Linked DNA regions of Homo sapiens. The main gene of each other region encodes a partner of the protein of the gene in region 2 in a complex. Each region holds a gene or a part of one and is shown on either strand. Other genes may lie near its edges.

Region 1 (9,921 bases), on a different chromosome or scaffold from region 2:
CACCCTTTGGTGAGAAGCTGTGTCTGTTTTTTTCCATGATTGGCATAATTAACTCAAATACCAGCTGTGCGTTAGTCCGTATTTCTGTTCGTGGTTGAGTTCAGTGTGTCCAGAGACCGGAAGGTGCTTTGCACTCACAGGAGTGCCCATGTGGAGCTCCATGGGATGTGAATTATTGTTGGTCACCAGTTCTGGCTGACATTGGAATCACTTGAAGAGTTTTTGTAATATGTGGATTCCAAAGCCCTGTCACAAACCTATTGAATTTGTACCTCCCAGGTTGAATTTTTTGTTGTTTTTTGTTTGTTTGTTTTTTGAGATGGAGTCTCACTCTGTCACCCAGGCTGGAGTGTAGTGGCATGATCTCAGCTCACTGCAACCTCTGCCTCCTGGGTTCAAGCGATTCTCCTGCCTCAGCCTCCCAAGTAGCTGGGATTACAGGCACCTGCCACCATGCCTGGCTAATTTTTGTATTTTTAGTAGAGACAGGGTTTCTCCATGTTGGCCAGGCTGGTCTCGAGCTCCTGACCTTGGGTGATCCACCCGCCTCGGCCTCCCAAAGTGCTGGGATTACAGGCGTGAGCCACTGTGCCTGGCCCCGGGTTGATTGTGATGCTTAGCTAGGTTTGGGATCCACTGGATTATTTAACACCCGAGGTGCCTTTTGTTTTTAATGATATTCTCTCAATGTGTTTTAAAAATGAAGCCCATGAGATAGTTATGAGATAGTAGAACTTTTCCCTACATTGGTGAAGTAAAAATCTTGGGATTTTGATAGCCAGATTATCTTAGGCATTAAAAAAGATCACACCGACGCCCTCTCTTTTTATAGGGATTCGCAGAGGCATTTTTGGAACATCTCTGGAAAAAATTGCAGGACCCAAGTAATCCTGCCATCATCAGGCAGGCTGCTGGAAATTATATTGGAAGCTTTTTGGCAAGAGCTAAATTTATTCCTCTTATGTAAGTAGCCTAATTTTCCGAATACTTTTTAATATCATGCTTTAAAAAGAGTATAGCATTGTCTCAAGTCAGAAATATCTCCCATTTTTTTTGGCATGTTTTTAAAGTGAATAAAATCCCTACTCTGTGCAAGATGTTTATATTTCTAAGTGGTGATTTTAGAATAAAGTGTCTCCTTTTTTATATATAAAACCCTGTATGTAAGGCTTTTGTCATCTCTTTTGGTTGCACTTAAAGATCCATTTGTTTTGTGGATAGAGGACAGTGTTGTATACTGTTTTGATTCTTTTTGTAGGTTTGTCATTTTTTCATTTGCATTCCAAATCTATTGTATCTGTTAAAGCTGAAGAAAAACCCTTTTAAAGGTAATAGACCTATCTAGGAGGCCAGTTTCTTCCAGTGGCCCATAAAGATACCTTTGGACAAGGATGCTGTTGAAACCCTTCCCCAACCACAAAATTATTCACCATAGGACTTGACTAGGATGCATCAGGGAATACTGAAGTCCACCAGACTGTCTTTCTCTTGAGAGGTGTTGGTGAACGTGTCCTGTTTGGCCAATCACCTTAAGAGGGGTGCCTTTGAGATGGTTAGGAGAACCTGCTTTCCATCCCTTGGGACGTTCTTAGGGGCTCACCTGTTCCTAGAAGGTCAGAGCTACTCTGCCTTGTAATTGGAAGGTTGTCTTCCTACGCACCCATCCTTATCCTTCCTTTCTTTGCTTTTCCTCTGTACCCATGGGTATTATTTAAAGAAACCTATGAACTTACTTAGCATGGTTTGTAATGAAAGGCAGTTGTGTGTTTTTATGTTATTCTGGTTTTTTTATGATGTGTAAAGTTGACTTGAATTTTTCTTTTCTCTAGTACTGTAAAATCATGCCTAGATCTTTTGGTTAACTGGCTGCACATATACCTTAATAACCAGGATTCGGGAACAAAGGCATTCTGCGATGTTGCTCTCCATGGACCATTTTACTCAGCCTGCCAAGCTGTGTTCTACACCTTTGTTTTTAGACACAAGCAGCTTTTGAGCGGAAACCTGAAAGAAGGTCAGTGTTGTGGGAGTGCTGGACTGGATTTTCCTTGTGTTCTTGTCACCCTTCAGAATGGTGATTCATTACTTTTTTGAGATTTTTATAAAAACTGGATTCAGAAAACTGCATGTGCACTCAAACTTTTAATAATAATTTCAAGCAGCTCATAGGCCCCTACAAACCCCTTAAGATAGATTTGAGCTTGAGAACCCTACAAACCCCTTAAGATGGATTTGAGGTTAAGAAAGAGGTTTCTGCCTTTGAAAGTTTGAAATGTGAAGATGTCTCCAGAGGTGAGGCTGAGCCCTGGGCTGTGCCAGCGCCCTGTACAAAGCTTCAGTTGGATGCACCTTCTCTTTGTTGTCCTTGTAACAGCCCAGTAAATGGCAGGTATTCTCCCTTTACAGACAGCACTAAAGCACAGGAAAGTCATTTTCCCAAGATCACATGGTTAGTGGCAGGATTAGAAAACTGAAGCCAGGTTTGGCTGACCCTAAAGTTTGAGTTTATATAGATTAAACTCTGCCTGAAGCCTTGAGACTTAATTGACCAGTATTGTTTTGCTAATTTCTAAGAGTTACTTATAATTCAAATCTGTCAGTTGAAACTTATTAGATTAGTGTATTTTAGTTGAAGAGAGTCTCCAAGAACAGTGTTTATAAGTCATTGTAAATTGTTCTGTTTATGTTTATGAATAATTCTTATGGTTTTGTGGGTCACTTCCTCTAAACCGGGGTCTCTGAACCCTGCACGATTGCCATTTGGGCTGCATCATCCTTCATCGTCGGGGGCTGTCCTCTGCACTGTAGGATGTTTAACAGCCTCCACCTACTAGCTGCCAACAGCAGTCCCCGACCACCCCCAGCTGTGACAACTAAAAGTGTCTCCAGATACTGCCAGGTGTCCTCTGCGGGGGTCGCAGTCTCCTTGGGTTAACAGCCACAGCTCTAAACTGAAAGTTGTATGTGTTGCATTATATATGTTTACCTACATCCTACATGCTTCTAAAAGATGTTGTATGAACTAGTAGGATGAGGTTTTATCACAAGGTAAGTAAATACAAGCTCTGCTTTTCTTTGTATAAATTAATGCCAGGAATCTGGATTAAATATCTTGTTTTTGTAAGCTGTGACATCCCATTTAGGTAATTTTTATTGAAATACGTATCAAAGAAACTCCTAAGAAAATATACTTAAGTACAAGTTGGTCAGCTTGCCTCTTAAAATAAATGTGATGTCTTTATTTTACTCATGTAGAAAAGAATTATATTCATTAAGTCTAAGAAAGTGGTTTCTGTCTAAATTTGCCGTCCGTTGAGGTAGAAGGCAAATTTGGAGTTTTCTTGTTTAGAAAAAAAACTACAGATGACTACTGTGCACCTGAAAACAGCACTCAGCTTCACTAACAAGACATGCAAGCTAGAATCAAATTGCTGTTTTGTTTTGTTGCCTGTCATGATTGTTAGCTGAAACCAAATCACAAGGTCTTTTCTCCCTCTGTATTATCTCAGCATACACTGAGCTTGCAAACATATGAATTTCACATTGTCGTGGAATCTTACAGCCTGCTACTTCCTAAGTTTTCTTTAGAGAAGCTGCCTTGGTGACCAATGAATGTGGTTAGCCTAGTGATACTCTTCTGGGCCATATACTGTGTGACTATCTGCATGGACCTTTATTTAAAGCATTTCTGCAAATAATTTTTTAAAGTTTTTTTTAAATGTGTGATAATTTGTGCTTTTAAAAGTATCTTACACTTTTCACTTATTTGTACCTTTAAAAAAATCTTTTTTTTTTTTAAACCAAAGGTTTGCAGTATCTTCAGAGTCTGAATTTTGAGCGGATAGTGATGAGCCAGCTAAATCCCCTGAAGATTTGCCTGCCCTCAGTGGTTAACTTTTTTGCTGCAATCACAAAGTAAGTTATTTACGCTTTCTTGATGGGAGTTATTTAAAATATTTTTATTTATGTTTATCTAGTATTGTAAGAGTGTTAAATTTCTATGAAATTAGTAACATTATAAAAGGCCAGGCGTGGTGGCTGACACCTGTAATCTCAACATTTTGGGAGGCTGAGGTGGGAGGATTGCTTGAGGCCAGGAGTTAAAAGACCAGCCTGAGCAACATAGTGAGACCCTATCTCTACAAAAAAATTTTAAAAATTAGCTGGGTGTGGTTGCCTGTGCCTGTAGTCCCAACTACTCAGGAGGCTGAGGTAGGAGGATCACTTGAGCCCAGGAAGTCAAGGATGCAGTGAGCCCTGATTGTACCACTGCACTCCAGTCTGGGCTCCAGAATGAGACCCTGTCTCTTAAACAAACAAAAACAACCCAGTCCTTGCAGGAAATACTGTGATACAGCTATTGTTTTTATACTTTGATGGCGTTGGAAATTACTACTACTTCTTATCCAAAGGGCAGCACTTTGAAATAAGTATGGCAACCAGTAAGCTGAGAGGGGCAAAGCCATAGATGCTTATTAGAGTGACTCCTGTAATAGTAATAGAAATAAACTGGACATGAGGCAAATGTTGACCTGTAAGAGATTGGTTTAGAGAGTTCTGTTCTCTCAGGTCTGGTAGCTATGGCTAATCCATAGCCTTTCCTCTGTGCCAGGCAGTTCTAAGCACTTTACATAGAACTCATTTGATCCTCTAGGATGAAACCCTGTTTATCAACAGGGAGGTGGAGGTACAGAGAGGTGAAATCACTTGCCTAAAGTCATAGAGCTAGACTGGCAGCACAGATTTAAATGTAGTCTGGCTCCTTTGTAAGCTTTCACTAAGTTATTCTGCTTTATGGAGAAAGCGAATTGGAGAATTGAATATTCAATGAGGATATTTAGGCCGGATCATAGCTTAAAATCTTCAACAGATAAGAGCCAACAGCTTGCTGAGCTCCGTCAGCCTCTTTAGTTCTCCTTTGCTAGGCGTCTGGTTCAAGGTGTCCTCTCTTCTGAGTCTCAGTGATAGTAAAGGATTAGGAAAAGGCATAAAGAGACCAATAAGCAACGGCAGTGAGTGGGTGGAGGCTTCAGCACGTTGGTTAAGATGGTGAGCAGCTCAAAGAGTGAGGATGGATGAAGCAAAGCAGAGGCCGCTGCCCCTGGTATGTTCTCGGGGTGGGGACAGAGGACTGCATTTGTGAACCATCTGGTCCAGGGGCTCTCGATTTGGGGTTGGCATGCGCATTGGAGGCACAGAGTGTGATGCGATGTGAGGCTAAGAGCAGGGGATTGAAATAAAAGTCTCTGCCTAGGTACAGATATGGTAAATAAAGGCGTGTACCATTCTGTAGCTGTTGCTTTTGCCTGCTTGATGCTTTTGAGATTGAACCATATTGACACAAAGCTTTATTTTGATTTTAACTGCTGTGTTATGTTCTGGGAATCTTTTTTATTGAGTCTTTGTTGGGATTTCATCTGTTAGTTTTTGTCTTTTTTTTTTTTTTTATTTGAGACAAGGTCTTGCTCTGTCACCCAGGCTGGAGTACAGTGGCGTGATCTTAGCTCACTACAACCACCACCTCCGAGGCTCATGCAGTTCTCCTGCCTCAGCCTCCCGAATAGCTGGGACTACAGGCGCCTGCCACCACGCCCAGCTAATTTTTGTATTTTTAGTAGAGATGGGGTTTCATCATGTTGACCAGGCTGGTCTCAAACTCCTGAGCTCAAGTGAACCGCCTGCCTCAACCTCCCAAAGTGCTGGGATTACAGGTGTGAGCCACCGTGCCCAGCCGGCTGTGTTAGTGTTTTAGTGCTCAGGAACATTCTTGTGTGTGGGCACATGCTTCCTTGTCACACACCCGGAAGTGCGGTCAGCTGCGGGGTTGTAGGAGATGCAGATCTTCAACTTTACCTGATAGTGCAAACCACCCTCCAGTGTGGTTTTGCTGATGTGTCCTCCACCAGGAGGAGGGGTCAAGTGCTGTGAGCCTTGGCTAACAGGACAGAAATCAAAGTATGTGGCTTGAAGTTGCCATGGTGACCTGAGAACCTGAGATGGAGAGTGACAGAAGTGAGATCTGAGTCCTCATCTTGGAGAAGCTGTCCAATAGATAATTTTTCAAGTTGCTCAATCATTTAGAGACAACTACTGGAAAAATTAAAAACATAATTGTCTTTATTTTATGTTTTCTTCTATGCATTTAACTGTTCTCACTCGGCATGCCTAGTCCTTTCTGTGCCTGTTTTTGAGGTCATGACTTAGTCAACCCCGTGTCCCTCCTTCAGTAAAGGCTTATTTCTTTTTCAGTGCTTCTTCAGCAAGTCTCTTCACCAACCACTATTTCCTCCTGAGTAACTCCTGAATCCCTTTACCACCAACCTTCTAATTCTTTTGCAAACAGTAAAAATAAAGACACCTATAGTTACGTAATCTAAGAGTTTTGCCTTGCAAACATTTATTTTTAATGAATAGTATCTATTACTCATTAAAATATAATGAATAATATCTATTACTCATTAAAATATAAGCCCAGTTTCACATTCTGAGTGATAGCCACGTTTTCTTTCTCCTTAGCAAACTTGCAAATAGAAGACCCATAGAACGGTACCCTAAAAGTGTTACTTTCTGCTTTATATTGTTATTTTTACTAGCACTTGTTATATTCAGCAATTTCTCTGTGGTAGGTACAGTTGTCACACGCAGCTCACATCTGCACCGAGTCACTCCAGCATGTTAATGCCTCTGTCTGTGTTGTTTTTTTGTTCCACAGTAAGTACCAGCTCGTCTTCTGCTACACCATCATTGAGAGGAACAATCGCCAGATGCTGCCAGTCATTAGGAGTACCGCTGGAGGAGACTCAGTGCAGATCTGCACAAACCCGCTGGACACCTTCTTCCCCTTTGATCCCTGTGTGCTGAAGAGGTAGGTACTTTTAAACATTGACGCTGGAGGAGGTGGATTTTTTTTTTTTTTTTGAGACGGAGTCTCACTCTGTCGCCCAGGCTGGAGTGCGGTGGTGTGATCTCGGCTTACCGCAAGCTCCGCCTCCCGGGTTCACACCATTCTCCTGACTCAGCCTCCCGAGTAGCTGGGACTACAGGCACCCACTGCCACGCCTGGCTAATTTTTTGTATTTTTAGTAGAGACGGGGTTTGACTGTGTTAGCCGGGATGTTCTCGATCTCCTGACCTCGTGATCCGCCCGCCTCGGCCTCCCAAAGTGCTGGGATTACAGGCGTGAGCCACCGCGCCCGGCCAGGAGGTGGATTTAAACGTGATACATGTTTGCTTTTCCCAAAATTGGGATTTAGGGCTCTTCACCAGAAGTGGCCCTTCCTCGCTGTTGATGAGCATCTCGTGGTCTCCCTGCGTATATTTCACCAGATGCAAAGTAGAGGATGCCTAGCAGGACTTGCCGAGTGGCGCAGGCACCCCAGAGTGGGTAGATCTTTGCCTCACTAGGAGCCAGACTGACATCAAGGGTTTTTTGTTTTTTGTTTTTCTTTAAACTGTTATTTAAACATGTAAGGTTAATGGGGATAATGGTGCCAGGATAGGGGAGGGTGCTGTCTTTTCTTGCTTCATAATTTTCTGCCAAGTGTCTTGTTCCTTCCTCTAGAGACCACATACCATTCTGTTGCACAGGATAAACGAAAAACAAACGATTGGCTGGGCGTAATGGCTCATGCCTGTAATCCCAGCACTTTGGGAGGCTGAGGCGGGCGGATCACTTGAAGTCAGGAGTTCAAGACCAGCCTAGCCAAGATGGTGAAACGCTGTCTTTACTAAAAATACAAAAATTAGCTGGGTGTGGTGGTGGCGCCTGTAATTCCAGCTACTCGGGAGGCTGAGGCAGGAGAATCTCTTGAACCCGGGAGGTGGAGGTTGCAGTGAGCCGAGATTGCACCAATGCACTCCAGCCTGGGCGAGAGAGTGAGACTCTGTCTCAGAAAAACAAAACAAAAAAAAAACAAAAAGCGATTTATCTAGATGAGTTGTTCTAGAAAACCACTGGGCCAGCCTTAACTTGGCACTTGTATAAGGAAGCAGGATTTTTGCTTATTATGGTTTCTAAAATAACTAGCAGCATCATGACCATCTGGGATTGTCTGGTCCCTGAAGTCTTGGTTGACTGAAACCAGATTAGTTGTTTTTCCTAGACTTACTTTTCAGCAAATTACTACAGAAATATAAAAAAGAGAGTTCCAGAATATTACGGTTTCATTTCCATTTGGATATACTGTATCTAACTGACTTGTGAGTCTTTGTAAAGTTTAGAAACAATTTCACATGAAAATGGAAAGATGAAAAACGGTAGTTCAATACTCCATCGACATGAGTGAATGAACTCTTATACAGAAAGAGCCACATTAGTTACAGCATTTACATAGAGGGTTGTTTTTTTGTTTTGTTTTTTTCTTTTTTTTTTTTTTTTTTGAGACAGAGTCTTGCTCTGTCTCCCAGGCTGGAGTGCAGTGGCGCGATCTCGGCTCGCTGCAAGCTCCGTCTCCCAGGTTCAGGCCATTCTGCCTCAGCCTCCCGAGTAGCTGGGACTACAGGTGTCCGCCACCACACCCGGCTAATTTTTTGTATTTTTAGTAGAGATGGGGTTTCACCGTGTTAGCCAGGATGGTCTCGATCTCCTGACCTCATGATCTGCCCACCTCAGCCTCCCAAAGTGCTGGGATTACAGGCGTGAGCCACTGCACCCAGCCAGGTTTTTTTTAAATGTAATTATTTAAGCTGTAGTTTTCACTTCTTGGTTTTGGGTAATAGATCTTGTGAGAAAAGATCCAAACCAATTTTGACTTCTGCCGAAGTATTTAACTTGACTTTGAAATGTGATCTTTGTTGACAGGTCAAAGAAATTCATTGATCCTATTTATCAGGTGTGGGAAGACATGAGTGCTGAAGAGCTACAGGAGTTCAAGAAACCCATGAAAAAGGTCAGTTTGTGATTGATTGAGCACACTCTCGGAATCTCCTTTCTGGTTCCAGGTCACAGTGAGATAGTAAGTGGCAAGTCGTTCGTGCGTGTAATCCCCGCACTTTAGGGGGTCAAGGCCAGAGGATTGCTGGAGACCAGCCTGGGCAACACAGTGACACCCTGTTTCTACAAAAATTTTTTTAATTAGCTGGGCGTGGTGGTGCACACCTGTAATCCCAGCTCCTCTGGAAGCTGAGGTGGGAGGTCAAGGCTGCAGTGAGCTGTAAATGCAGCATGGCACTTCATCCTGGGCAACAGAGCAAGACCCTGTTTTCTTTAAAAAAGCACACCAAAACCGTGTCTTACTCATTCTGCCTTTATAAAATTCCAGGCCCAGGTTTTGTTGTTATTTAAAGAGTCTATGGCTTTTTTGGATAAATTGCTTAAACCAGACACTTCACATACTGACATGTGAGAAGCGAAGGTTAATTACAAATTAGCTGAATGAATTTAGATCTTTGCCACTTGCGCATTCTTACCAAGTAACAATCTCCAGTTGACTCATGTTGAAATTGCCCCAGCAGTTTACATTAGTTTTATAGATCTTCATGAATGGGTGGTGAAGACGCAGGTTGCAACATACCCTCCAGGTCACATGAGGTGGAGCTGAGACAGTTACAGTTAGAGAGGAAAGTTAGAATCCAGTAATAAAGAATTTCGCTGCTCTGTTGCTTGGGAGCACATTTGTTTTCTCATTAAAAGCAGCTTCAAGATGGCTTTTTTGTTGTTGTTTTTAATAAGTAATCATTGGAAAGCCCCTTTCATCTTTTTCTTTATGTTTCATTTGTTGAGGGGCGTGTAATTCATTCACATTGTGTTAGGTACAAGAGTTCCTAACACTGGGCAAGAATGACTCGTCATGTTTCCTGTCCCCATTGAGCTTCAAATCTGTTTGCAAGTCAGACTTGAAACAAATGATTACAATGTGTGATGAGCAGTTATGTGGGTATGTTGGTAAGAAGGAAGTGCTTATCAGAGGGAGCTTTTGTTCT
Region 2 (10,048 bases):
ATTCTCTTCACTATCTTCCACCCAAGTCATCCTATACATATGTATATACCTTGCTGTGTGGTGTTTTTTCTTACAATGTTTTTAGTCCTCTCTAAAATTGTTTTTTATTTGTATCTGTTTTCTATCATCCTGTCATGATAACTATGGCCAAAAGACAAGATGACAAATACTGTCACAAATACCACCGGAAGATGTAGAAAACAGTGTGGAAAATTTAGAAGAGACACATCTTAGAAAAAATTACACTGGTCTGCCATTCAAAGCTTTGCAATGCTGCTGGATAAGATGCAGATGTTTCAAACATGTCTCTGCATGAGAGCTGCTAGATTCTATTTCCACAATGGAACATAGGGAAAAAAAAAAACCACTTGTAATGGGAAGATGCACCAGGAAACACCTATTCTAGACAATAAACCATTTCTTTTTATAAACAACACTTTGTGGTAAAATTGTGTCTGTGTAGCCGGGCGCGGTGGCTCACGCCTGTAATCCCAGCACTCTGGGAGGCCGAGGCAGGTGGATCACGAGGTCAGGAGATCGAGACCATCCTGGCTAGCGTGGTGAAATCCCATCTCTACTAAAAATAGAAAAAATTAGCCGGGTGTGGTGGCGGGTGCCTGTGGTCCCAGCTACTCGGGAGGCTGAGGCAGGAGAATGGCGTGAACCCAGGAGGTGGAGCTTGCAGTGAGCCGAGATCGCGCCACTGCACTCCAGCCTGGGCGACAGAGCGAGACTCCATCTCAAAAAAAAAAAAAAAAAAAAATTGTGTCTGTGTAACCATGAAAGAACCTAGAATACTAGAAGAGCTCTGAGAGAAGACATTGACAGCACCGCGGGGGCAATTCACCCACCGCCTCATCCACCAGCATCAAGTGGCAGCAGAAGTTAAAGGCAGAAGGTGCACACTGCTGGAGTGTGTCAGGATATAGTCAATTTTATGAAGACAAGACTGTGCAGATATAGCGCAGGAATCGCCGTCATCTGGACTGAGCATGAATATCCACAAAAGTCCTGTGTCCCCACAGAAGGCTTTTGGATACCTCATGGCAAAACATTTCAAAGACCTGCCAGACCCACAGATGAGCTAGTTACCTTCTTTTTTAAAAAACAGGAAAGTAAGTATTCCTGGGATGACAAGTAGTTGTCAGTAGTATTGGCAGATATTTTTGAAATGGGGAATACACTTAATTTGTCCCTTCAGGGTAAAGGGAATGTTTTAACAAAGTGAGCATCAGAATGGCTGGGTGTCTTGACTGCCTTATCTTTATATTTATGATTGCAAATGTCAAGTAGGCCCTCATGCTGCTTGCAATTTTTGCTAGATTCCTGATTCCATTCTTCCATTTCCAAGAGTTATTACACCTCTGGTCTCCTCTCAAACTTCCCACAGCCCTCCCCACTCCCACTCTCAACTGATGACTTGCTTCCATTTCAATGAAGCTCAGAGAACAGACCTTCCACCTCATGCACCTGCGCTGTCCCACGTGCTCTCCCTTCTTTCCTGGTTCTGCAGCAGATGAACCCTCTATGCTAGGGCTGACCCCTCCATGGTGCTGCAGATCCTCTCCCTTCTCACGCACTGCATTAGTCTGTTTTCACACTGCTGATAAAGACATACCCGAGACCGGGCAATTTACAAAAGGAGGAGGTTCAAATGGACTTATTCAGTTCCATGTGGCTGGGGAAGCCTCACAATCATGGTGGAAGGCAAGGCCTTGACCTCCTAAAATCCTGGGATTATAGGCATGAGCCACCAAGCCTGATCTAATTTGTACTTGTCTGATAAGTAATGACGTTGCGTACATTTTCATATATTTATTGACCATTTAGCTGTTATCTTTTATGAAATACCTGTTCAAATCTTTTTGCCTATTTTTAACTGGATTGTTTATTATTTCTTAATAGATCGGTAGGAAACCTTTGTTACATGTCTTGTCGAATATGTATTGTGAATTTCTTCTCTCAGTTTTTAGTTTGCTTTAATTATGTCTTTTTTTTTTTAATTTTTTTTAAAGACAGGGTCTCTGTCACCCAGGCTGGAGGGAAGTGTCATGATCACAGCTCACTGCAGCCTTGACTTCCCGGGCTGAAGCAATCCCCCCGACCCAGCCTCCTGAGTAGCTGGAACTACAGGCATGCCCACCACACCCAACTAAGTTTTAAAAAAATTTTGTAGAGATAGGATCTCTCTATGTTGCCCAGGCTGATCTTGAACTTCTGGGCTGAAGCAATCCTCCCACCTCGGCCTCTGAAAGTGCTAGGTTCTAGGCGTGAGCCACTGTGCTCAGCCTAACAATGTCTTCTGATGAATCGAAGTTCTTAATTTAATGAAATCCAGTGTAATGACCTTTTCTCTTAGGAGTAGTGCTTTTTGTGCCCTGTTGATGAAGTCTATTCCACACCAAATCATAAAGATATTTACCACTTTTTTTTTCTAGAAGCTTTATGGTTTTACCTATCACATGTAGGATCTATTTGAATTAATTTTTGTGTACAGTGTGAGAAAGGGGTCAATAATTTTCTCATATGCATGTCTGATTGATTCAGAACCATTTATTGAAAAACTATTCTTTCAGCTCACGCCTATAATCCCAGCACTTTGGGAGGCCGAGGTGGGTGGATCACTAGAGGCTATGAGTTCGAGACCAGCCTGGCCAACATGGCAAAATTCCATCTCTACTAAAAAATACAAAATTAGCCAGGTGTCATGGCACATGCCTGTAGTCCCAGCTACCTCTACTTGGGAAGCTAAGGCCCGAGAATTGCTTGAACCTGAGTGGCAGAGGTTGCAGTGAGCCGCGATTGTGCCATTGCACTCCAGCCTGGGCAACAGAGCAAGACTCTATCTCAAAAAAGAAACAAAGAAAAAGGAGAAAAGCTATTCTTTCCTCACTGAATTTTAGTAGCAGCTTTGTTGTAAATCAGATTATTTTATATGTACTTATGAGTCCGTTTCTGGACTTTCTATTCAGTTCTGTCAATTTTTTGGTCTATCCTTGCATCACACTAGATTACTGTATGATTTATTTTTTTCTCTTTTATTTATTTTTTAAATCTTTATTCTTTTTTCTCTACTTTTTCTTTTAACATTTTTTAATTTTGAGAAAAGGTCTTGCTTTGTCATGTAGGCTGGAATGCAGTGGCGTGACCACAGCTCACTGCAGCCTCAACCGATCCTCCCACCTCAGTCTCCTAGGTACCTGGGACTATTGGACTGTGCCACCACACCCAGCTAATTTTTTAATTTTTTGCAGAAATGAGGTCTCATTATGTTTCCCAGGCTGATCTCAAACTCCTGGGCTTAAGTGTTCTGTCCACCTTGGCCTTCCAAAATGCTGAGATTACAGGCTCGATGTTAAACAAACTTGCATTCCTAGAATAAACCTAACTTGGCTGTGATTTATTATCCTATTTATATATTGCTGAGTACAACAGGATGTACATTCAATTTACTGATGTTTTGTTTGGAACTTTTGCATGTATGTTTATGAGAGGAATTGCTTTTTAATTTTGACTTTTCTTGAAATATCCTTGTCAAGTTTTGGTGTCAAGGTCATGCTTGTCTCCTAAAATGTACTGGTAAATGCTCTTCTTTTTTCATTATTTGGAAGCATCTGTATAAGATGGGTGTTATTTATTTCTTTTTAAAATTATTATTATTATTGAGACAGAGTCTCTCTCTATCAACCAGGCTGGAGTGCAATGGCATGATCTTGGCCCACTGCAACCTCTGCCTCCCAGGTTCAAGCAATTCTTGTGCCTCAGCCTCCCAGGTAGCTAGGATTACAGGCGTGCAACACCATGCCCAGCTAATTTTTGTATTTTTAGTAGAGACGAGGTTTTGTCATGTTGGTCAGGCTGGTCTCGAACTCCTGGCCTCAAATATTCTCCTGCCTCAGCCTCCTAAAGTGGTGGGATTACAGGCGTGAGCCACCATGACTGGCCTATTTCTTTCTTAAAAATTTGGTAGAATTTGGCCAGGCGTGGTGGCTCATGCCTGTAACCCCAGTACTTTGGGAGGCCGAGGTGGGCAGGTCAGGAGTTCAAGATCAGCCTGGCCAATATGGTGAAACTCCATCTCTACTAAAAATACAAAACTTAGCCAGGTGTGGTGGTAGGCGCCTGTAGTCCCAGCTATTTAGGAGGCTGAGGCAGGAGAATTGCTTGAACCTGGGAAGCGGAGGTTGCAGTGGGCTGAGATGGTGCCACTGCACTCCAGACTGGGTGAAAGAGCAAGACTGTCTTAAAAAAAAAAATTGGTGGAATTTTCACATTTATTGGCCTAGAGTTGTTCAGAATATGCCCTTATGATCTTTTTAATGTCTGTGGTATTTGCAGTGATGCCCCTACATATTGGTTAGTGATGCCACTGATATCAGTTTATTTTGATTTTCTTTGCTCCGTTGCTCAGACTGGAGCACAGTGGCCCGATTATAGCTCACTGCAGCCTTGAGCTCAAGCAAACCTCCCGTCTCATCCTCCCAAGTAGCTAGGACTGTAGGTGTGCATCACCAAGCTGGGCTCTTTTCTTTTTGATCAATCTTTCCAGAGTTTATCGAATGTATTAGTATTTTCAAAGAGCTAATGTTAGTTGGTTGAGACTCTCTTCTTAAAAAATATCTTTTAGGCTGGGCGTGGTGGCTCACGCCTGTAATCCTAGCACTTTGGGAGGCCGAGGTGGGCAGATCACTTGAGGTCAGGAGTTCGAGATCAGCCCAGCCAACCTGGTGAAACCCCGTCTCTACTAAAAATACAAAAATTCGCCAGGCGTCGTGGCGCGTGCCTATAATCCCAGCTACTTGGGAGGCTGAGGCAGGAGAATTGCTTGAACCTGGGAGGTGGAGGCTGCACTGAGCTGAGATTGAACCATTGTACTCCAGCCTATAGAGATGAGGACTCAATATGTTGGGCAGGCTGGTCTCCAACTCCCGCCCTCCAGCAATCTGCCCGCCTTCGCCTCCCACAGTGATGGGATTACAGGCACCAGCCACCACAGCAAGCCTTTGTGGAGCCTATCGAAGCTTGCTTTCTCTTTTATTAATTTCTCTTTTTTAAACATTTCCTTCATCCCATTATTTTTCAGTTTAATCTTTTTTCTAACTTCTTGGGATGTACGATTATATCAAAAATCCTCTTCTCAATGAGATCTCTCTTGAACATCACATTTCAGACTGAAATCACCTTGTTGTTCCCATTCTCCTCTCCTCTTTATTTTTCTCCTTGGAACTCACCACCACTTAACATACCACATATTTTCCTTATTTATTTTTGTCTCTCCCCATCAGAATACAATCTCCATGAAGGCAAGGACTTTTGTTTACTTTGTTCACTGCTGAATCCCCAGGACACAAACCAGTTCCTGTTTAATAAATAAAACAAGGAATGAATGTGTTAGATGAAGAAACAATAAGAGCTAAATTTATTGAGCACTTACTGAGACTCAATTATATTCACTCATGCATTTATTTATTCAGTTATTTACTTATGCAGAGAAGGGGTCTCGCTTTGTTGCCCCGGCTGGTCTCCAACTCCTGGCCTCAAGCAATCCTCCCGACTCAGCCTCCCCAGGATTACAGGCGTGAACCAGCACGCCCGGTGGAGACTCAATTATAAGGGGCTCACAGATAACATCTAATTCTTACAGAGGAGTAAACTGAGGCACAAGTAAGCAGGAGAGCCGTGATTAGAAACCTAGGTCTAACTCACAGCCCGTGAGCTTTCCTCCAAGCCCCGAGGCTTCCCCTTAAAAAAGCCAGCAAGGGGCGAGACTCGGAGGGCAGAACCCACGGAGGGCGGAACCCACAGAGGACAGAGCCCGCGCTCGCGAGCACGGCCTTGTCCGACCCCCCGTGCCGCCGGAGGAGCAAGTCTGTCTTGGAATGAATGATCGTCGGAACGGAGCTTGATCAAACCACTCAGCAGTAGGCGTCGCCCACTTTCTTATTGGTTGGTTTTGGTTCTCAAGAGTAGGAAAGTTAGGTAGTCCGCGAGGGGTCTGCGAGCTTTGCGGAGCCTCGCCCCCGAGCGCGCGGTTTCCCTGCCGCGCAGGCGCACGGAATCCTAGGCGCGGATCTCGCGTTTCCGGCCGGAAGCTTCTCCAGCCTTTCCCGGAAGCTGCGCTCGCTACCCGGGTAACGGGTCCCGGCTGTGGAAGCTCCCGCGGCGCCGCGATGGACCTCGAGGAGGCGGTAAGGAGGCGGTGCACCTGGCGGGCCACGATCGCCGGGGCCGGAGGAGAGAGAAGCTGAGGAGGAGCGGCGGAGGACGCCGCGGGTTGGGGCGGCGACGCCACCGGCTGGAGGAAGGCGGGGCGGAGGGCTGCAGGGCGGGCTAAGGACTGGGGCTGGCCGGCCGCATGCGCGCGCGGCTTTGGTAAAGAGGCTGGAGTTTCTGGCTCGGCGAGGTTGTGGGGGAGGGAGGGTGTGGTGTTTGTCGTTATGGGTGTGTTTAAGGATGAAGCTGTGGGTTTTGTGGGGTGGCCACCCACAGGGCTCATCCTCGAGACTGGACCACCCACAAGTTCCCTTTAATGCTGGGGTGGGTGAGGGAGGGGCAGGGGTTGGAACCTGAGATGCCGCCGGGTAACCCCTGTCGGTCTCTCCGGGAATCCTTGCCACTGTCTCCAGCAGGGATTCTAAATTCGGGTTTGGGAACTCCCCAAATTGTCCAGCTATCATTCATCGTAGTGTTAGTACGGGGTCACTGAACACTTTACCAAGTTGCCAAAATTGATTTGGCATGCATTTTGTTTTGTTTTAGGTACTACGTAAAATGGCACATTTTTGTTTTTTATTTTTGAGACAAGATCTCACTTCTTCCCCCAGGCTGGAGTACAGTGGCACGATCACGGCTCACTGCAGCCTCGAATCCTGGGCTCGAGAGATCCTTCCGCCTCAGCCTTCCAATGAGCTAGGGCTACAGACATGCACCACCAAGCCCGGCTAATTTTTTTTTTTTTAATTTTTTGTAGGGGCAGGGGTCTCGCTATGTTGTCCAGACTGGTATTGAACTCCTGGGCTCAGGCGATCTTCCTGCCTCAGCCTCGCAAAGTGCTGGGATTATAGGGGTGATCCCCCGCCCTCGGCCAAATGGCACACGCTTTGATGGTATTAAATGATACTCGATAATTAGATCAATGCTAACAACAAGTCAAACTCCAAAGAGTTGGGGATCAGAGAATTAGGCCTGTATATACAGGAGCAGTACGGTCTTATAGTAGAGGCTTAAAAAATGTTTACTGATGATGGTTGGCTAACTTCTGTAAATGCTAGGCTGATGAAATGAATAATTGTAACTCACCATTAGCTAGCGTATACCCAGACTAGGGATCATGTCTGGTCTGTTTTGCTCACCATTGAATCCCCAGCACCTAGTAAAAAGCCTGGTACACACATAGTTGATACCCCTTATGCTGCCGAGTGAATAAATCGAAACTTGAAACCATTACAAATCTAGTTCCTCTGTGGTATGCGCTTTTAGTGTCCTGGAGGAGTTCCAAATTGTATTTGCATTTTTTAAAAGTCTTCTCTATACTTGTTTGTCATCTTCTCACAGTATTTTCAAGGAGCTTTGTTTACTCATCTTTGGTTCCAGTTTACCCCTACTACCTCCTTTTCTTTTTTTTTCCTGTCACACTGCATATTTCAATAAATTTTCTCCAGTAGTTTAATTCGGTTTCATACCGCGCCTCTCCTTGTTTGCGGATAATCTCTCTGACATATTTTTTATTGTCTATGATTTTTTATTAATAAAGTTGCCAGGAACCCATTAAATAGAACTGCAAGGTTTAGGTACGATGTATTGAATGTGGCTTGATGGGAACACCTTTTCTGTCCTCTTCTCCCATAGGAAGAGTTTAAAGAACGCTGTACTCAGTGTGCTGCTGTCTCATGGGGTCTTACTGATGAAGGCAAATATTATTGCACTTCTTGCCACAATGTTACAGAGGTAAGTAACAAATATCATTTATGAATTTGCTTATGTTTTAAAAATTGCCATTTCAGCCTGATATGTAGTCTAAGTCCCAAAGAATTGGGTTGATTTTTGTCACTCATGCAATGCCAACATTCCAAGGATGCATGTGGTCTTAGGTACTTACACATAGGTTAAGGGATTTGTGAATTAGATTGAGGATGAGTTTTTGAAATTATGTTGGGCCACATTTATAAATGATTTCTTATTCAGAGTATGTGGTTGAGGGAAATAATTAAAATTGTACTTAGAAGATGATGCATTTCTTTTTATCAGTTAGTACTTATTTACATTTTTTTAAATGTGTCATGGTGGCTTAGAGGTTTGGAAGATGGAATGTTAGAAAACTTGAGGACTGGGCCGGGCGCAGTGGCTTACGCCTGTAATCCCAGCACTTTGGGAGGCTAAGGCAGGTGGATCACCTGAGGTCGGGAGTTTGAGACCAGTCTGTCCAACAATGGGAAACTCCGTCTCTACTAAAAATACAACAATTAGCCAGGCGTGGTAGCATGCGCCTGTAGTCCCAGCTACTTGAGAGGCTGAGGCAGGAGAATCGCTTGGACCCAGGAGGCGGAGGTTGCAGTGAGACGAGATCACGCCACTGTACTCCAGCCTGGGCAGCAGAGCAAGACTCTGTCTAAAAAAGAGAAAGAAAGCTTGAGGACTGTTGGGAATATTGGAATTATTCTTCGTTATCCTTTTACCTTTGTATAGTACCTTACAGATTACAAAGTTTTTGGATCCATTATCTCATTTCCTCCTCATCACTAACTGTGAGAGCCTATTGATAGGGCTCAGAAGTTGAGTGAGTTTGCCAAAGTTACCCAAGTACCAGGACTTGAATGTGAGTCTTCTGACTTCAGTGTTCATTTTACCCATCACACCTGCCTCTTAAAGTAGAGATTGTCATATTGTCCTGTGTAACCTTGGTAAACGAGGCTACCTTCACATTGTGAGTGCTAGGTCCTATTGTGGTGAACACACCTTCGGGCCAGCATCACCAAAGTGATCAAGGGTGTAGAGAGTCTGCTGCTGGACAGGCTAAATGTGCCAGGACTCTCCTCAGTGGAAAAGGATTTCCTCAAAGTCTACAGATCCAGGAAGGAACAAATGTTACCTTCACCATACAGGCTTAAGAAAGGCAAATTTGGGACATTAAAAGTAACTGTGTAGACTTCTGCTTCTGGCTAAGATGGACTAACAGAGACCAGACTTACCTTTGTCCCCTAAACAATGAAAAACCTGGACAAAATATATTAAATGAGTAAAAGGAAAAACATTTTCCCTTGACAAAACTGGTGAATTGAGCTTGCAGGTGTGTCACACAAGTGCTTTTCCTTGAGGCAGTGTTCTTGAGTCTGCAGCTGGAATGCTTATCTCTGCTTCCTGTTTAGTCATACAGAATATTAAAAAGATATGTGCTCACTTGATGAAATTGTTGGGGTGATGGAGATATTTATTATCTTGATTATAGTGGTGGTTTCATGGAGATATATTTTGTGTGTGTGTCTGTGTGTGTCAGATTGTGCACCTGACAGATGTGCAGTTTGGTCCTCACCCTCATTGTGTAGTAAGGAGCTAGCAGTTTTACTCACTGTTGCTTTTGTACTATAGTGCAGGTGTAAACCCAGTGAAGAAAGATTATGTCTAATGGAGTATTTGCCATTAGTAGATGAAGTCAGCATACTATTTTTATAGGAATTGAACTACATTAACTAATTGCTTTTCTATTTTTGATTTTGATACTGTTTCCGTTTGATTCTGTTTGATCAAATCTGCTGCAGTCATTTTTTAGTTTGAAAGATCCTAATACTTCTCCCTAGCTCCACATTTGGAAGACTGTCAACTCCTGTGGAGTAATTTGTCAAGAATGTAGAGTTCATGAAGGTGGACAACATCTTTATAAAGACCAAGAACCTAGCTCAGTGCCTTCCTTTCAGACGACAGGCTTAAAGGAAAAAAAAGTTACGTGTTGCACAACTTCAGTAGTTATTCTTGGCTTTATGGCGGTCCAGGCATGTTCTTCACATGGACTGTGAGAATATAATGTGGTAGGGGCTCCCTGGAGCTGAGCAGT
Region 3 (9,921 bases), about 100 Mb from region 2:
ACTGGACAGCACCAGTATGGAGCTGGCTTCTTTAGTAATTATACAGTGGTTATATAAGACAAAGTCCTTGCTTTGGAGAAATAAAGTGATACAATCCCTGCAACTTTCAGGGATTGTACAGAAAGAAAAATGTACATCTGTGTACACAGAAAGTAAAAAAGTAAATGTAAATGAATGAAATGTTCACAATTAGAATCCAATGTACTATTTGGACATTATTCTGGAAGTCTGAAATTATTTCAAAATAAAAGTTAAAAAGTACTATAAAATAAAACACGACTACTAAAAAAATACAAGTGAGGAGGGCCGCAAAAACAAAGGTAGCCCCCGGCTAGCAAGGACCAGGATTCTACCCCAAGATTCATTCTCATTCCCAAATGACTCGCCCGCCCAAACTGCAACCAATACAAAGAACCACTGACAGCCCTCCGCCCCTCCAAAAACAGTTTAGACAAAGCACACATACTTAAACAGGAACTCCGCAGCTTGCTCATTTGGGTACCAGTCAGGAACATTGAGTTTTACTCTGAAGCATTCACCTAGGTAGTTAAGGACCTGTTTTTGTGTCGAACAACCCTCTTCCATTACAATCCTTAACATCTGAGAAACAGAGTTCCTAAGGAAAGAATCATCCTCTTTTCCTTTGATGAGCTCCTGAAAGATCTGATAATCAGAAAAGCTGACAAGTGCCTAGAATAGAAAATAAAAGGTTTAATTGCTCACTAATAACTAAAATACTTTATCTATTCACTAATAATTATCTTCTCTCATTTTTTTAATACCCAAGGAAAATTAGCACTCTGCTATTGCTGAATCAAAGTAAACTCTCTAAAATAAAGCATTCTTTGTATGATAGCCAGACAGCACAATTGCCTCCAGGGTCCTCATCTCCTGGTGTTCACAAACGTGTAGTTTCCTCCCATGCCGAATCAAGGCTGGCCTGCTTGACCAAGAGAATGTGGTGAAAAAGATAATGGGAGACTCCCAGGGCTAGATCACAAAGGGCACTGCAGCTTTTTCCTTCTGCATCTTCTGCTCTCTGTTCTCTCAGCTAACTATATGGAGGAAGACAGTTGCCTCAAGCAGCCTACAGAAAGGGCCATGTAGAGAGCAACCCCATGAGGAGACCTCCTGCCACCAACCAGCAGATTTGCCAGCCATGTGAGTGAGCCACCTTGGAAGTCCTGAAAATGACTGCAGTCCTGTCTGACATCTCCATGCAACCTCCTGAGACCCTGGGCCACAAGTGCCCAGCCAAAGCACTCCCAAACTCCCGACCCGCAGAAACTGTGAGACAGAAATGTTATTGAGTTTTAAGCTATTGAATTTTGACGTAATTTGTTTTGGAGCAGTAGACAACTAGTACAGTATTATTTTAACAAGGAGAATCCATCCAATGTGCACAGGATACTACCCCCAGTGAATTTCTTCATAACAAAAGAATGCATTCATTAAGTCATACCTTAAGTGCAAATCCCAAAGGAAGAAAGAACAGTTCTTTTCGGTAAATAAAGTTCAACATAACAGTGCCATTTTCCAAGTAGTGGAGGTTCATATTGACAGCGGAATGTTCTTCCCTCACACAGTGCATTGAAACTCCTATTGAACCAAACAACAAAAAAATCAGAAACTCATTGATATCTTAATTGCTTCAACCATTTTCTTTCTGAACAATCTTAACCTCTTAGACACAATTAAAGCCAAATCACTAAGTTTAGCCAAGACTGGCAATCAAAAATGTTTCTAAACCTCAGCAAATGTCCTCTTGCATGCAAAATCTACCCAGATTGAGAAACACTAATGTAAAATAACCGAAACTATGAATTTAAGCAAACTTCAAAGTTTCCCTCCAGGACAGAGTCCACATCTTTTAGCACTTTATATCTGCCTTAAACTGTGGAGTCTGGTCAAGACATGGTGCTTGATCTAATAGTTCCAATGGAGAAAAGTAGAATTTTAGATTTTATTTCAGTTTCAGGCAAAGACTGCTAAGACATACTACCATCAACTGATGCAAAAGAAAATCACTAGACATTCAGGCATGCTGTTTTTCTAGGTATAGTATGTATGGCTATAATTAAGGTCTGATTTTTAGCTCAACTATCAGGACAAATTGTTTAACTGTCAGGGTTGCTCAAGAATACAACATGCTGTCTTAGGCATTGTCAAAGAGAATGTTCCAACAGAGGCCAGGTGGCTGTCAGACAGAGACCCTGAGGGGTGTACCACAGTGGCCTGAACCAGAAGACATCCAAGGCCCACATTCACCTATGGCCAAGCCAGACTAGCTTCCATCTTCATAAGTAGTAACAAAAATACACATGCTCTTTCAGTTTGCAAAAGTGCAGCAGCCTGAACCAGAAGACAGCCAAGACCCACACCCACTTATGGCCAAGCCAGACTAGCTTTCATCTTCATAAGTAGTAACAAAAATACACATGCTCTTTCAGTTAGCAAAAGTGAATTTTAAAATGCTTATGATTGATAAAAATCATATATATTCAAGGTGTACAATACCTTGAATATACATATACATATATTATAATGATTTCCACAATCAAACTGATGAAAACATCAATCACCATAGTTATCATTTGTAGTACGTGTGCACGCGTGTGTGGTTGAGACACTTAAAATGTACTCATCAATTTTAAGCAGTACAGTATTACTATCATCACCAGGCTGTACATCAGATCCCCAGAACTTATTCATCTTGTAACTGCAAGTCTGTATCCTCTGACTAACATCTCTCCATTTCTTCTTCCATCCCAATTATGAAAACTTAACACAAGAATGCTCAATAGAAAAACAACAAAAAACAAAAGAAAGACCAGACACGGTGGCTCATGCATGTAATCTCAGCACTTTGGGAGGCTGAGGCAGAAGGACTGCTTGAGCCCAAGAGTTCGAGATCAGCCTGGGCAACGTGGTGAAACCCCATCCCTACCAAAAAAAAAAAAAAAAAGAAACAAAAATATCAAAGACCATTTGGATGCATCTACTTCAAAAAAAAAAAAAGTTTTAAATTTTCCTTAAAAAATATTCTAATAATCTCCAGAACTTACCATACTGAGTATAACCAGGCCCTCTGGTTTTCCATTTTGGTCTTATCATTGCAATGGGAAAATTTCTCCGAGGCATAATCAACATTCGGATGACTTTTTCAATGCCATTGATTATAAAATAGCCCCCCATTTCCTGCCAAAAAGATGAATTGCAACTTGTTAAACAAAGATACATGACTAACTGTAAACATGAACCTCACTCCTAGCCAAAGGTAGTACAACACACAGAATAGGAACACAGAGGTGAAATGTACTACTGATCCCTTGAAAACAGTACACAGACACTGTCTTTGTGTGAATTAACAGTTTTCTCAAGTATATTACAAAGGTCCTAGGGACATGGGAAAAAAGTATGGAAGAAAAACAGGGTACTTCTCTTTATCAGACAGGCTCAACCTATCTTGCCTTTCTGTCCCCTAAAATGACTTCAGTCTTCAAATAACACTAAAAAAAACTTACTCCAAAGAGGTGTTGAAAGATAAAAACTGGGCCGGGCGCGGTGGCTCACGCCTGTAATCACAGCACTTTGGGAGGCCGAGACAGGAGCATCACAAGGTCAGGAGATCAAGACCATCCTGGCTAACACGGTGAAACCCCGTCTCTACTAAAAATACAAAAAATTAGCCAGGCGTGGTAGTGGGCGCCTGTAGTCCCAGCTACTCGGGAGGCTGAGGCAGGAGAATGGCTTGAACCCAGGAGGCGGAGCTTGCAGTGAGCCAAGATTGCGCCACTGCGCTCCAACCTGGGTGAGAGAGGGAGACTCCGTCTCAAAAAAAAAAAAAAAGAAAGATAAAAACTGTAACCATTTTGCTTCCATACGAGTATGGTTTCCCAAATACGTTCAAAAACTTGATTGTATGAAAGCTCTGGAAACCAGAAATTTGGATTAGCTAAATAGAAAAATATTTTTAATAGCTCTGCTCAATATCACATTTCTGTAATAAACAGCTACTATTTACGAATTGCCTACTATGAAACAGGCATATTATAGTAGGTGCTCTATGTTATCATAACATTTAATTCTCATAACAATGAGTGGGGTAGCTATTATACCCACTTGCAGCAGAGGAAACTGAGGCTCAGGGAGATTAACTTCCCCAAACCACAAGACTGATAAGCGGAAGAGCTGTGTGTCAAACCCAGATCTGACACCAAAACCCTCTTCCCACCACATAACACCATCTACCTATTTAGTAGGCACTGTTTGTTCATCTTGATTACCTCAACTCAACTCTGCAAAGCCACCTAATATAGCTGAAAGAAATGATGAAGGGAATGCATATAAGTCATTTAATATGCGCACAGAATCTTACTGTTAGCAAAGCAGACATTTTTATTTCACTTTTTTAGTGACGGGGTCTCACTCTGTCTCCCGGGCTGGAGTGCAGTGGCACAATCATGGCTCACTGTAGTGAGGCCTCCTGGGCTCAACTGATGCTCCCGCCTCAGCCTCCCAGTTAGCTGGGACTACAGATCCATGCCACCACCATGCCCAGATAAATAGACATTTTTGACAATAGCTTTGTGGATTAAGACAGCTTGAAAAAAAAAACAAATTTTGTGGAAGTATGTCTCTATCATTCAGAAAATTAGGGAAAAACCTACCAGTTCTTCCCCCCGAACAATAATATTCTCTAATTTTACAGCCACTTTTTCATACTGTCTAATTTGATAGTTATTCAGAGCCATACACTGTATGCAGGCAAGATACTGATATCTCTTTCACCTATCCAGAAATTGGAGCACAGAAAGAAAACACTGACACACTTCTTGTCTTCTTACTCCCAACCCAGGCCTTCTCTACTGTCTCATGCCTGGACGCCCGTCATTACCTCTGCCTCCTCATGGTGCTCAATGAGGGCTTGTGGGGGAAGGTTACGTAAGTTGCAAAGCTTGGATTTCACCATGATGGGAACATAGCCAAGAAACTGCTTAATGATTCCTTTTGAGATTCCATTCACTGCCCAGTTGATATCAGCCTAAATGAAAACAAGAGAAAAAGTTACTTAACAGAAATATCTGCATTTACGAGAACAAATGAGTATTTTCAAAGACTGAGGAAGAAGATCAATTAAATTATTTTATGCCTTAGATTTAGAAGGTGGGATCTCTTAGACAATAGCACCAAGAAAGCAATTTCTGGCATAAACTTTATTAGGCACCCGCCCTACTCCCAAATATGTGCAGTGTTGAGAGTCACACAGTATCACTAGTACTCACTGTCAACTTCCCACGGTAGGTACTCCTTCGGCCCCGGCATTCTGCTGGATAAACATTGGCCTCTTTGCAGATGGTCCCTTTTGGAACTGTAGGTGGACTGATAACAGCATCCAGAATAGTAAAAGAGATACGCTCATCTTTGAAAGCAAATTCAAAGGGAGGTATAGCCTGAAATGCAATTCACACTATTAAATTGCTTGCATTTCCAAGGCATTTTTTCTCTAAGACTCTTCCAAATCTTATGTGTTCTACAAACATTGATGCCTGTGATGCCACCATGACACACCTAAAAAGGACAGTTAAGGCTACCTCCAGTTGGCCGGGCGCAGTGGTTCACGCCTGTAATCTCAGCACTTTGGGAGGCCGAGGTGGGAGGATCACAAGGTCAGGAGATCGAGACCATCCTGGCTAACACGGTGAAACCCCATCTCTACTAAAAATACAAAAAAAATTAGCCAGGCGTGGTGGTGGGCGCCTGTAGTCCCAGCTACTCGGGAGGCTGAGGCAGGAGAATGGCGTGAACCCGGGAGGCAGAGCCTGCAGTGAGCAGAGATCACGCCACTGCACTCCAGCCTGGGCGACAGAGCGAGACTCCGTCTCAAAAAAAAAAAAAAAAAAAAAAAAAAAAAAAAAAAGCTACCTCCAGTCTACTCATAACTTCACTAAATACTTAAAACCACAAAGCATTATTAGTACAAGATTGTTTTGAGTGACCACATGTGTCAGAGACTGTAGTAGGCTCTAGGGATACAGCTGTGAACAGAACAAAATTCCTGTTCTCTGAACCAAGAGCCTTGTGTATTCTTAACTTGTCTATGTGCATAGCAAGACAAATGGGACTACTGCTAATAGAGCAAGGATACGGAAACATCCTTTAGGATTTAAGACTAGATGCTTAATGTACAATGGCAACGTCAAACTGAAGCCAGAGCCATGCAAAGGAAAAGATGGTGGCCAGGCTGGGTTTCCCCTTCCACAGAAGTTACTTCTTTGTACCATTCTGTAGGGGAAGCTTTGCTGTTCTGAGGAAGGGGCATCACCAAGCTCTCCTATATATTAATTACAAGCAACCTCCTAGACTTAGTCTTAGAATAATGAAAATGAAAAAATGGAACCAAGAAAGAATACCAAGGAGGTTCTCCACCTTCACGTGAGTTAACTTACCTTTTCTAAATTTTAAAATGTTATCTAAAGCTGGTATTATTTTAGAAATTCATATTTTATTTAAAAATAAAAGCCAGATGCAGTGGCTTATACCTGTAATCCCAATATTTGGGAGACCGAGAGAGGAGGACTACTTGAGCTCAGGAGTTTGAGACCAGGCTGGGCCACATAGGGAGACCCCGTCTCTACAAAAAATAAAAATAAAAAAATTAGCCGGGCATAGTGGTGCACGCCTGTGGTCCCAGCTACTCAAGAGGTTGACGTGGGAGGATCACTTGATCCTGGAAGGTCGAGGCTGCAGTGAGCTATAACCATGCCACTGCATTCCAGCCTAGGTGACAAAGTGAGATCCTGTCTCAAAAAAAAAAACAGAATGAAGTTAAAAAAAGAGAGATTAGACAATTTGCTTTCTCAAGACGCAGCTGCACTATTTAGAAGGAAATACAGTGAACTGTCATTATTCATAATAGTTATGTTCTATACAGTTGCCATAAACACTGAATTAGCCAATACTGAACCACTGCTCCTAGGGTAAATACATGGTTAGCTTCCTGCGAGCCTCTGGTCACATTTCATCAACTGATCAACACACAATCTTGTATTATGTGTGTTTCTGTTTAAGGACAGCTTATTTAATACATATTATTGAGTCCGTAACTCATGCCTGAACAAAGCCTATGATTTCATCCACTGATCAATACACAACCTTGCATTATGTGGGTTTCTGTTTAAGGACAGCTTATCTAATATATATTATTGAGTCCCTAACGCATGCCTGAACAAAGCCTATGTTAAATGCATGTATTAATATTTTCCCCTAAAGGCACAGCACAGCCTTCTTGTGCTTAGGAACTTTATACAGAACTTTAATACTTTAATACTTTGCTTGGGGGACATTTTAAACAGCAAAATCACCAACAAAAAGCACAAAACACGGCACTAAATAGATAGTGAAGACAACCTCTGTTTATAGTTTAAGAACTTAAAACAAGAAGGCCGAGCATCACCTTGTTAGATCTCAGCTGGGAAAATGGACACTGAGCAACTCAACTTTTTTGCTGCTTCTGGGCATGGTGCTTTTGGAGTAGAAGTAAATTTTAGTGAGTAGGTGAATTTGCAAATATGGAATCCCCAAGTAATAAAAATCAATTGTATTTTGAAAAGACAGACACATAAATTCTGACTCACAGAAAGGAGGAATTCACTCCAAAGAAACTTGGCAAAATTATGTTTTGTAAGTAAAAAATATGATAACTATTTTTTCCCTTGGCTTTATAAGTATTAGTTATTTATGTTACTGTGTTTTACAGAACTTTTTCAAATACTATATTATTATAGTCCTAGCTAAGTTGTGGCATCATTTTCTATGCAGGGCCAAATTTTCTTCATCTACTTCAACCAAAACAATTATCACAAGGGACTGAATGCACAAGCAGACATGAGAATCCAGCTGTCTTTTCATTAAGCCAGACATTAAAAAGATTTTTAATAATGCAATTCATCTAACTTCTTTTTTGCTTTGGAAAATATTTTTCTTAAAAATGTTAACATATAATTGGTTTATTTATTTATGTATTTATTTTTTTGGGAGAGTCTCACTCTGTCACCCAGGCTGGAATGCAGTGGTGCAATCTTGGCTCACTGCAACCTCCGCCTCCCAGGTTCAAGCGATTCTCGTGCCTCAGCCTCCTGAGTAGCTGGGATTACAGACATGTGCCACCATGCCCGGCTAATTTTTGTATTTTTTAGTAGAGATGGGGTTTCACCAGGTTGGCCAGGCTGGTCTGGAACTCCTGACCTCAAGTGATCCACCCGCCTTGACCTCCCAAAGTGCAGGGATTACAGTCAAGAGCCACCACACCCAGCCGACTGGCTTATTTTTAAATTAGTGCTTTTCTAAAATTTCTCAATTGGATTTTTTTTTTTTAAAGACAGGTCTCACTCTGTTACCGAGGATGGAGTGCAGCGGCACAATCATAGCTCATTGCAGCCTCAAATTCCTGGGTTCAACTTATCCTCCCACCTCAGCCTCCCGAGTAGCTGGGACCAGCTACTTGGGTGCGCACCACCATGCCCCACTAATTTTTAAATTTTTGTGGAGATGGGGTTTCACTATGTTATCCAAGCTGGTCTTGAAATCCTGGGCTCAAGTCATCCTTCTGCCTTGGCCTCCCAAAGTCCTGGATTACAGGTGTGAGCCACTGCACCCAGCCCGATTAACTTTTAATTAGGAATTTTTTCTCACAGACATGATACTGTAACAATCCAGGCACAATACAAATAACCCCCACCCCTCTAGTCTTTCTAAACAATAAATCTTAATGGCTCCCATATTATTTGCCGAATAGAGTTCAAGAATCAGACTGGCAATCAAAGCTCTCCACATTATCTGTATCCCTATCTCCCACAACACAAATCTTACCCAACAAAACCACAGGTAGGGTCCCCGAAGCATGTGACTCTGCTCTACTCTTCCCCTGGACGAAATGCACGTTTCTCACTTCTTGAACTCATCTAATCCTGCCCTTTCTCAAACTCCTGGATTAGTTGCGCCGCCCATAGGCTCCCGCAGTAGCCCACACAATCCCTTGGCAGAGCAGTTCTCAAGAACATTGGCATGCACTGCTTTCATTATCTTCACCCCTTCAACCCCCAAACACGACAGGGAGCACTTAAATGCATGAACTGTCTCGTACACGGGACTGCCTCCTCCACATCCTCTGAGCCTAGTGCCTGGAGACACTGGGGATGCTTACTAAACGAAGCTTTCCCCCACCATACTCACTTGAATTCTGCTACCATTACTCTACGCTAATAATGCAATTACACTTTTCGATTCAATCTTGCTTTCATGACTCATTTATACCTTCCTCGGCACCTGCTTAATTCATAACAAATGACGAGTAGTTTCTCTCTTTAAAGCTCTAAGAGAAGGAAACTGAAGGATAACCTTGAACATTACACTGTACCTACAAATACGTTCGGGATCTTTCGAGGTACGTTTTGGAGAGGTAAGTCTTCAAGTGATATAAAGCCGTGTGCATTGTGAAGCACATCCCCAGATAAGCCACTTCCTCACTCTCACAGCACCCCGAAACTGTCCAAACTACGGTTCACAATCACTTTTCACTCCAGAATCACGAATACATCTCTTAAGACGCCTCGACTCCAAGTCTCACGAAGGCCAGTACCGCGTCCTGTTTAACATGTTGTGCTCTCCCGCTTACCCACCAAGCCTGTCAGGATCAAGGAGCACATGCATCTGGGGTCATACTGTGACCTCCCAGCCACCTCCCTGGGATTGGCCTCGCCGCGGCAAGGGCGCCGGCGGACGCCGCGCTCACCTGCACCGCGAGGCCGAGACCCTCGTGCACAGCGTAGTTGAAGGACTCCACGTGCGCCCGCGTCAGCTCCTGCAACGCTGCCTTTTGCTGTTCCCGCGGGATTCCATAAGAGGGGTCAGTCAAGTGCT

Evidence for each region.
Region 1: TAF1B (region 2) and RRN3 share a complex: the UniProt entries of both Homo sapiens proteins name them as parts of the pol I pre-initiation complex.
Region 3: TAF1B (region 2) and POLR1B share a complex: the UniProt entries of both Homo sapiens proteins name them as parts of the pol I pre-initiation complex.

The regions. Positions count from the first base shown.
Region 1 is NC_000016.10:15,062,163-15,072,083, reverse strand, and holds part of RRN3 (RNA polymerase I-specific transcription initiation factor RRN3), read left to right. Parts: intron 1-832; coding exon 833-963; intron 964-1,829; coding exon 1,830-2,014; intron 2,015-3,806; coding exon 3,807-3,915; intron 3,916-6,712; coding exon 6,713-6,865; intron 6,866-8,800; coding exon 8,801-8,888; intron 8,889-9,921. UniProt on the Homo sapiens protein: Required for efficient transcription initiation by RNA polymerase I (Pol I). Required for the formation of the competent pre-initiation complex (PIC).
Region 2 is NC_000002.12:9,837,372-9,847,419, forward strand, and holds the start of TAF1B (TATA box-binding protein-associated factor RNA polymerase I subunit B), read left to right. Parts: upstream 1-6,102; 5' UTR 6,103-6,170; coding exon 6,171-6,188; intron 6,189-6,589; exon of another isoform or gene 6,590-7,088; coding exon of another isoform or gene 7,089-7,106; intron 7,107-7,848; coding exon 7,849-7,947; intron 7,948-8,685; exon of another isoform or gene 8,686-8,815; intron 8,816-10,048. UniProt on the Homo sapiens protein: Component of RNA polymerase I core factor complex that acts as a GTF2B/TFIIB-like factor and plays a key role in multiple steps during transcription initiation such as pre-initiation complex (PIC) assembly and postpolymerase recruitment events in polymerase I (Pol I) transcription.
Region 3 is NC_000002.12:112,542,544-112,552,464, reverse strand, and holds part of POLR1B (DNA-directed RNA polymerase I subunit RPA2), read right to left. Parts: coding exon 9,794-9,921; intron 6,801-9,793; exon of another isoform or gene 6,543-6,800; intron 5,454-6,542; coding exon 5,286-5,453; intron 5,045-5,285; coding exon 4,898-5,044; intron 3,199-4,897; coding exon 3,066-3,198; intron 1,600-3,065; coding exon 1,463-1,599; intron 691-1,462; coding exon 467-690; intron 1-466. UniProt on the Homo sapiens protein: Catalytic core component of RNA polymerase I (Pol I), a DNA-dependent RNA polymerase which synthesizes ribosomal RNA precursors using the four ribonucleoside triphosphates as substrates.